2 linked regions of the Homo sapiens genome follow. The protein of the gene in region 2 purifies or fractionates together with the protein of the main gene of each other region. This does not show direct contact. Each region holds a gene or a part of one and is shown on either strand. Other genes may lie near its edges.

Evidence for each region.
Region 1: the proteins of ADAD2 (region 2) and CRTAP purify together in Homo sapiens (affinity purification with mass spectrometry; one large-scale study listed by BioGRID and IntAct). This does not show direct contact.

The regions. Positions count from the first base shown.
Region 1 is NC_000003.12:33,120,514-33,124,318, reverse strand, and holds part of CRTAP (cartilage-associated protein isoform 1 precursor), read right to left. Parts: intron 1-3,805. UniProt on the Homo sapiens protein: Necessary for efficient 3-hydroxylation of fibrillar collagen prolyl residues.
Region 2 is NC_000016.10:84,193,868-84,197,682, reverse strand, and holds the end of ADAD2 (adenosine deaminase domain-containing protein 2), read right to left. Parts: exon of another isoform or gene 3,678-3,815; coding exon of another isoform or gene 3,462-3,677; exon of another isoform or gene 3,377-3,461; intron 3,295-3,376; exon of another isoform or gene 3,242-3,294; coding exon 3,101-3,241; exon of another isoform or gene 2,958-3,100; intron 2,751-2,957; coding exon 2,703-2,750; intron 2,639-2,702; exon of another isoform or gene 2,615-2,638; coding exon 2,489-2,614; intron 2,423-2,488; exon of another isoform or gene 2,418-2,422; coding exon of another isoform or gene 2,388-2,417; coding exon 2,237-2,387; intron 2,154-2,236; coding exon 1,986-2,153; intron 1,869-1,985; coding exon 1,639-1,868; intron 1,557-1,638; coding exon 1,313-1,556; intron 1,037-1,312; coding exon 916-1,036; intron 814-915; coding exon 709-813; 3' UTR 517-708; downstream 1-516.

The sequences.
Region 1 (3,805 bases), on a different chromosome or scaffold from region 2:
AGCTAGCTCTCATTAGCTCTGAAGAAGCCACACTGGCCCTTGAAGAAGTCAATCAGTGAGTTACTTTATATCTAGATTTTTCTACTTTGCTTATGATGGGTACATTTCTTATTTAGTTCAATTCAAAAAGTAGCAGGCCCTTGATAATAATCTGAATTAAGGAAAATGGGAAAACTATGACAGAGATCAGATCAGTGGCTGCCAGAAGTCAGGGGTTACAGCAAAAACTTGACTACAAAAGGACAAGAGGAAATTGTTCAGGGGTGATGAAAATATTCTATGTCGTAACTATGATGGCAGTTACAGGACTGGATGTATTTGTCAAAACTTACTGCATTATACACTTAAAATTGATAAATATATTGTATATAAATAGTACCTCAATAAAACTGGTTTTTAAAATGGAACGAAAAGAAAAATGTAAGTTTGAGAGCAGGTATATTAGTCTGTTCTCACATTGCTATAAAGAAATACCTCTAGCATGGCCAATATAGGGAAACCCCATCTGTACTAAAAATATAGAAATTACCAGGTGTAGTCACATGCTTGTAGTCCCAGCTACTCACGAGGCTGAGGCACAAGAATCACTTGAACCTAGGAGGCGGAGGTGGCAGTAAGCTGAGATTGTGCCACTGTACTCCAGCCTGGGTGACAGAGCGAGACTCTGTCAAAAAAAAAAAAAAAAAAAAAAAACCGAGACTGGGTAATTTATAAATAAAAGAGGTTTAATTGGTTCATGGTTCTGCAGGCTATACAGGAAGCATAGCAGCTTCTGCTTCTGGGGAGGCCTCAGGAAACTTACAATCACGGCAGAAGGCAAACAGGGAGCCGGCACTTCACATGGCCAGAGAAGAAGGAAGAGAGCGGGGAGGTGTTACACACTTTTAAACAACTAGGTCTCATGATAACTCACTCACTATCATGAGAATGGCACAGAGAGGATGGTGCTAAACCATTAATAAAGGATCCACTCCCATGATCCAATCACCTCCCACCAGGCCCCACCTCCAACCCTGGGGATTACAACTGGACATGAGATTTAGGTGGAGACACAGATCCAAACCATATCAGCAGGTGTCTGTCACCCCACTTCCTCCGACAATGCAGTTAAACAGAAGTGCCACCATGCATCAGCACTAGTTACTAGGAAGGGCAACCACATGCCAGATAGTGGAAACTTCAAGGACTTTCTGCTAATTGTTGATTAGACTCGATTAGAAGAGAAATAACAGGAGGCTGAGGCAGGAGAATCATTTGAACCCAGGAGGTGGAGGTTGCAGTAAGCCAAGATCGTGCCGTTGCACTGCAGCCTGGGCAACAGGGCGAGACTTCATCTCAAAAAAAAAAGAGAGAGAGAAATAAACTAGGACCAAGGAAGTAGCTTGGTCTCCAAGAAATAAGTAGAGATCCTGGATACACACAAAACCTGCTAACTTGCAGAGGCCAGGACAGGCCCTGAATAAGCATGGGACCCTCCATTTGGAGTTCTCAGCTGCTCTGGAATGGTGGTATCTGAGGGCACCCCTTAGACCTAGAATTTTCACCAAGCTTAAGGCCTCAGGTAAAGACAGTGGATTTTCTTCTTCTTTTTTTTTTTTTTTTTTTTTTTGAGACAGAGTCTTGCTCTGTTGCCCAGGCTCGAATGCAGTGGTGCAATCTCAGCTCACTGCAACCTCCAACTCCTGGGTTCAGGCAATTCTCTCTGCCTCAGTCTCCCGAGTAGCTAGGATTACAGGTGCCTGCCACCACGCCTGGCTAATTTTTTTGTATTTTTAGTAGAGACAGGGTTTCACCATCTTGCCCCAGCTGGTCTTGAACTCCTGACCTCGTGATCCACCCACCTTGGCCTCCCAAAGTGCTGGGATTACAGGCATGAGGACCGCGCCTGGCCGAGGGTGGATTTTCTTAAACCTCCTGGGCAGGCCACATGCCCTGGAAATAAGACAGGCTGAGAACTGAAGGAGCCTTTCCTGAAGAATGGGTCAATAAGTAGCCAACTCCAGACAGCTGGTTCTGCAGAAGCAGCGGGGCAGCAGCAGCAGCAAGAAGGACCAAGCAGAAAGAGGAGGCCCCTGATCACACAGGAGGGCAGCACAGCCACCCCAAAAGGGCTCCAGTGAGGGCCAACAGGACTAGCTGAATTCCAGATAAGCCCAGGGCACTGACCACACGCACTCGGCTTCGTTCCCCAAACCCTATGAAAACAACAGTGAAGACTATGAAAGGCATAAATTGCTTTTATGGGAGAATGGGAAGGGAGCAAGCAGCAGATGAGATTTCAACAACTTTTGGAAAGGCAGGAAGTGAAATAGTCACAAAGGAGGGGCCAGAGGGGAAGCAAGCTATATGTCCCATTGGCATGCGCAGGCATGAGGGACCACGGGAGGCTGGGGTAAGGCATGGAGCTAGAAGCAGGGCTGCAAGTTTGAACAGGCTGTTGGGGTCCTGGGTCCGCTCCCAGCACCTACCCACCCACCCAAGAGATCATATCTCCCAAAGCCACTCTTCACCAGAGAGTGGCAGTTTATTCTAGAGACTTTACCCATAAAGGCTGAGGAGTCAGGGACCAGACGTAGCAGAGGCCAAGTGGAGGCATGAGGCTAAAATCAGGAAGCAGGTGAAGTATTCCTACTCACCTGGGTGACCCTGTCCCTCTCCCCACACTGGTTCTCAGACACCAGCAGAGGAGTATGCGCACCCCACCAGCCCTGCAGAAGGCTGGTGAAGTCTTCCCTGGAAAACTGACAGATACCCCCAAAAAGAGACTTCCACACATACATTTTCCCTAGCAGTCAAAAAGTGAGCCTGAGATCTGATCACTCTACAGAAAACCCTGTGGTCAGGCCTTGGGAACTATAACTTCTAGTGGATATTTTCCACATATCCCCATTTTCTTTCATTTTTTTTGAGACAGAGTCTCGCTCTGTCGCCCAGGCTGGAGTGCAGTGGCGCAATCTCAGCTCATTGCAACCTCTGTCTCCCGGGATGAAGTGATTCTCCTGCCTCAGCCTCTCGAGTAGCTGGGTTTACAGACATGCTGAGTCACCACGCCCAGCTAATTTTTGTATTTTTAGTAGAGACGGGGTTTCACCATATTGGCCAGGCTGGTCTCAAACTCCTGACCTCAGGTGATCCATCCGCCTCGGCCTCCCAAAGTGCTGGGATTACAGGCATGAGCCACTGTGCCCAGCCAAATTCCCATTTTCAACAATGCCCTGCCCTTGCTTGAAACCCAGGCCCCCAGTGCCTGAGTTCCAGAAGACCTTGACAATAGTGAGTGCTCAAAAGGGCGAGATCGTTCTTTCTTATTGTTGTTCTTACGACTAATTCTCATCAAAACTCTTCTTCGTAGATGCGCAGATTTAAGTGTCCTCTACTCTGTCACATCAGCCTTCCTAACTCGTCTTCATTTTCTACCTTAATATATTTAGGGTGCGTTTGTGTGCAAGTGTGTATAAAAATATATGCCTTCTCATTTCATCAAAACTGGAGATTTATGTTTCTATTTCTTGTGTTCCTGGTCATTTTAGATGATTTCCAAGATATGTCTTTAATCTACCCTCTTAAAACTAAATAATTAAATGACCATATTTCTAAAATGTAGCATTTAAAGGGAACATGGCTTTTAAAATCATCACGGCATACAAAATATCATTATTAAATGGATCACTTTGTGCTAAAAGTCAATCATTTCTATTGTCATAATATTCAGCAAATGTCACCAAAAATCACTAGAGGTCCTTAGCTATCAGCAGCTGCTTATGGAGAGACATTTCTTTAACAGTCCAGGTTGCCACTAACTGCC
Region 2 (3,815 bases):
GCCCAGGGAAAGCACTGATGCTGCTCATGCCCTCCCCACGCCCTTCAACATGGGGCTGCCCAGACCCCACAGCACCCTCGAGGGCCAGGGCAGCTAAAGCTCTGACCAGGGAAGGGTGTTCTCTGCCCTCCCACACATCCTGGGGGCCCAGAAAGGCAAGGATTTGGAGCCCCAATAGCGGCCAGAGGACAAAATGCTCACACATCCAAGCAGCCTGCCCTCCCACCCTTTACAACACCCGCAACCCGTGGCCTCCGTGGTCTCCTCCAGCACACAGGCTGGAAAACAGGAGGAACCAGGGGAGGTCACCTCCCCTCCTAAACCTGCCTCCAGCCCTGTGAACAGGGGCGGGGGTGACAATTCAGTGGCTCAGTGAGAGGATCCAGGTGGGAACCCAGTGAACACAGGGCCTCCCAAAGGAGGAGTGAGGGGCTCTCTCCGCAAACAAAGGGCCCCTGGCCACCCCAACACATAAACACACACACACACACACACACAGCCAACTACACACACAGGAACCAGAAATACTTCTTTATTCAAGCCCAAACGTGCAGCAGCCGCCTCCCAACCACAGCAGGCTCCTCCTTCCCTCCAGCCCCAGTTTCACCCCGCACAACCCATGTTCTCCCCACAACGCTCCTCAGATAGGGCACTCCCCCAGCAGGGGTACAGCTTGGCTCCGGGACCTCGGTCCCGCCGAGGCTGGCTTCAGTTTCTGAATTTGCCCACCAGTGGCTTCGAGGGCCAAGCCCCCAGGCCCTGCTGGTCCAGGAGGAGAGACAGCTGCCTGCGAGCCTCCTGGTAGGGCCCAGCCTAGGGCGGGAGATGAGAGGTGGGGTGAGAGGAGGTACCTGCAGGGGGCAGGGACTGCAGGGCTGGAGAGGGACCGGGACGGGGGGAGGGTGGGGAACCAACCTTGGCAGCCTCGTAGGTCTTCAAGGCCAGGAGGTAGGGCTTCCCCACAGCCCTGGCCGCCTGGTGAAAGGCCCGGAGAAAGGAGGCCTTGCAGAGACGGGAGGGAGGCCCCAGGGCGGCACTGGATGAAGAGAGGATACCACTGAGATCAGAGAGATACAAGCTGGACCAGCAGGCCTGCTACACACCTCACACTACCTCCTCTCACACTGTGACAATGTCACAGGACTCACAGGGCAGACAGAGGTGTGGCCACCACTACGGAGCTAGGAAGGGGTTGAGCGAAGGGGTTGAGCGAAGGGGTTGCGCTGGGATTAGACTGAGGTGAGGAAGCTCATGCATGAGCCCTCCATCACCAGCACTGCTCCACAGCCCGGCCCCAGGGGGCCCTTCTCACTTGGCCTTCACACGCCCGGTGGCCACATCCACAACCTCGATGCCAGGGTCCCCCAGGCTCCAGTTGAGGCTCAGGCCACGGCAGGTGTCAGGGGTGGGTTCGGAAGGGGCCACCGGGGGCCCTGCAAACAGGTGCAGGGCGGTCCGGACGTAGGGAGGTGGCAGGCATGGCCCCAGGACACTGTCCAGGCAGGGCCGGGTGTGGATGGCCCTGCTCAGAGTCGGAGGGTCGTGGCATGAGTCAGCTGCAGGGCAGAAGGGACAGGACAAGGTGAGTGACCTCCCTGCCCTCCCTTCTCACCCCCCCAGCCCTCACCACGTGCTCACCCAGGATGAGGCTGGTGCTGTAGAGTGGGGACACCAGGTGGGCCAGCAGGGCACCACCCAGCCCCAGCACGGCCCAGCGTGCCAGCTTGTCACTGGCTGACAGGCAGCCCACGTGGGTGTCACAGAGCGAGGGCGCCACGTAGCACACAGGCTTCAGCTGCCCGAGCACATGGGCCTGCAGGCGCATGGGTGGGCTGTGCGGGAGGCCACCTTCCGAGGTGGGGGGCAGGCTGCGGGCCGGGTGGGGACAGACATCAGCTTCAGGGCTGCTCTTCTGACCCTGGCCCCCACCCAGCAGCCCAACCGAGGGAGCCCCATCCCCCGCCTGCCCCGGGGGCCCTGCATACTAGATGTCACGGGCCGCGCCCTTGGGGGTGTTGCTGATGTAGAGGTGCAGGAAGACGCGGGGCTTGAGGGTGAATGGGGGTCCGGGCCCTGGCTGGGGGGCCAGCACGGACTGCTCCTTGCCCTTGGGGCCCCCCTGTGTGGCCAGCAGGAGCTGCCGGAACAAGAACCTAGGAGCGACAGGCACAGGGTGGTTGGGAAGACCTTGTCCTGGCGAAGGCTGCTATCAGGCGCCCACCCCACTGCCCCTCACCTCAGCAGGGCCCTGCGGGCGATGACCAGGCCATGGCAGTCGTGGAGCTGCTGGCCCGAGAACTCCAGCCAGCCAGCACAGCAGCTGCTGCCGGTGCCCAGAGCCACCAGCTTGTAGATCTCCTTCACGTGGCCCCTGGCACGCGGGATCTCTGTGCAGGAGGGGGCAGAGACGGCCCAGCCTAAGGCAAGGAGCTTGAGGGGGCCCTTCCCAGGGGGCCGGGGCCAGGGCCAGGGCTGGGGCGATCCCTACCCCTCTCCAGGATGACTCCAGCCACAGTCCCCTTACAGGCCCAGTATGGCGAGCGCTCGTCCAACAGGAGGTCAAAGCCGGCGCTCACCAACGCTGCGCAGCGCTGCTCATGGGTCAGGATGTTCTCTGCGCCAGGGCGAGAGACTGCAGGTAGAAGGGGGCCCACGCCTCTCCCCTCGACACTACAAGCCTGGGTCCGGGAATGCTCACCTACCTACGCTCAGGGGGGCCAGTGGAGGCCGGCTGGAGGTCTGGGGGGACTCTGAAAGAGGCAAGGAGGGCGGGCTGGTGTGGGTGCCAAGGCCCACCCTCCGTCCCTCAGGAAGCCAAGGAGGCGGGGAGAGGAAGTTTTCATCTTCCAGACACAGGACATTACACGAGCTGCTCTTCTAGCGGTCCCTACCCCCGGTGTCCCCAGAGGACGTGAAAGCAGGGACCGGCACATGTACCCCGCCCCAGCTCCCTGCAGGTGACGTCCTGATGCTCAGATGGTTTGTACAGCAACCCACCTCCTGCTCACACGCACAGCCACTTCCGCCTCCCCACGGGACTGCCAGCCTCAGTCCTCTTGTCCCCAGCTGCGGCTCAGCTGCCTGGCCCTCCCTCCATTACCTGGGTTCTCCAGCTGACTCCGGATGTAGCAGAGGGCAGAGAGCGCTGCCTGCTGTTTGGCCTCCGTCTTGCTATTCGCAGTGCCCGCAGGGCAGACCACCCCATCCAGTTCCGCGCTCACCGAGAAGGGGAAGCAGGGACCTGGGGAAGGAGCCAGGTGAGGAAGCAGCCCCCTGGCCTTCGCCCTGTGACAGGTACCACCTCTGCCTCCTCCTGACACCTGATATCGAGGACGGTCAGAATAATGAGACCCTCACCACCCTTCCCTTCCTCCAGCAGGCTCCATCGCCACCCCATGCCGCGCACACCCTTGAGTGCCTCTGCAGGCTGTGACCCATCGCTGATTCAACCAAGTCCTCACCCAACTCCTCCACAGCAGGGATGCGTGACTCCATTTCACAGATGAGCAGAAACGGCAGGCGGTTTGCCCAACTTGAGTCAGGACCCAAATCCAGGTCCCCTCTCCAGAGCCCACGCCACCCTGTTCTCAGGAGGAAGGCTCTGAGCACTTCCACCTGCCACAGACACATTGCTTTCAATTCCTCTCCTCCAGGGGCTCTATATTTGAACACTTTTCCTATGAAACAGTATCATTTTGGGTGTTACTTATAACACAAAAGAGAGATGAAAAATCTGGAACTGGGATCACATGGTCAAAGGTGCAGGGTTAATTTCACAGTACTTGCTGCTAAATTGTTTCTCCCAAGGACTGCCC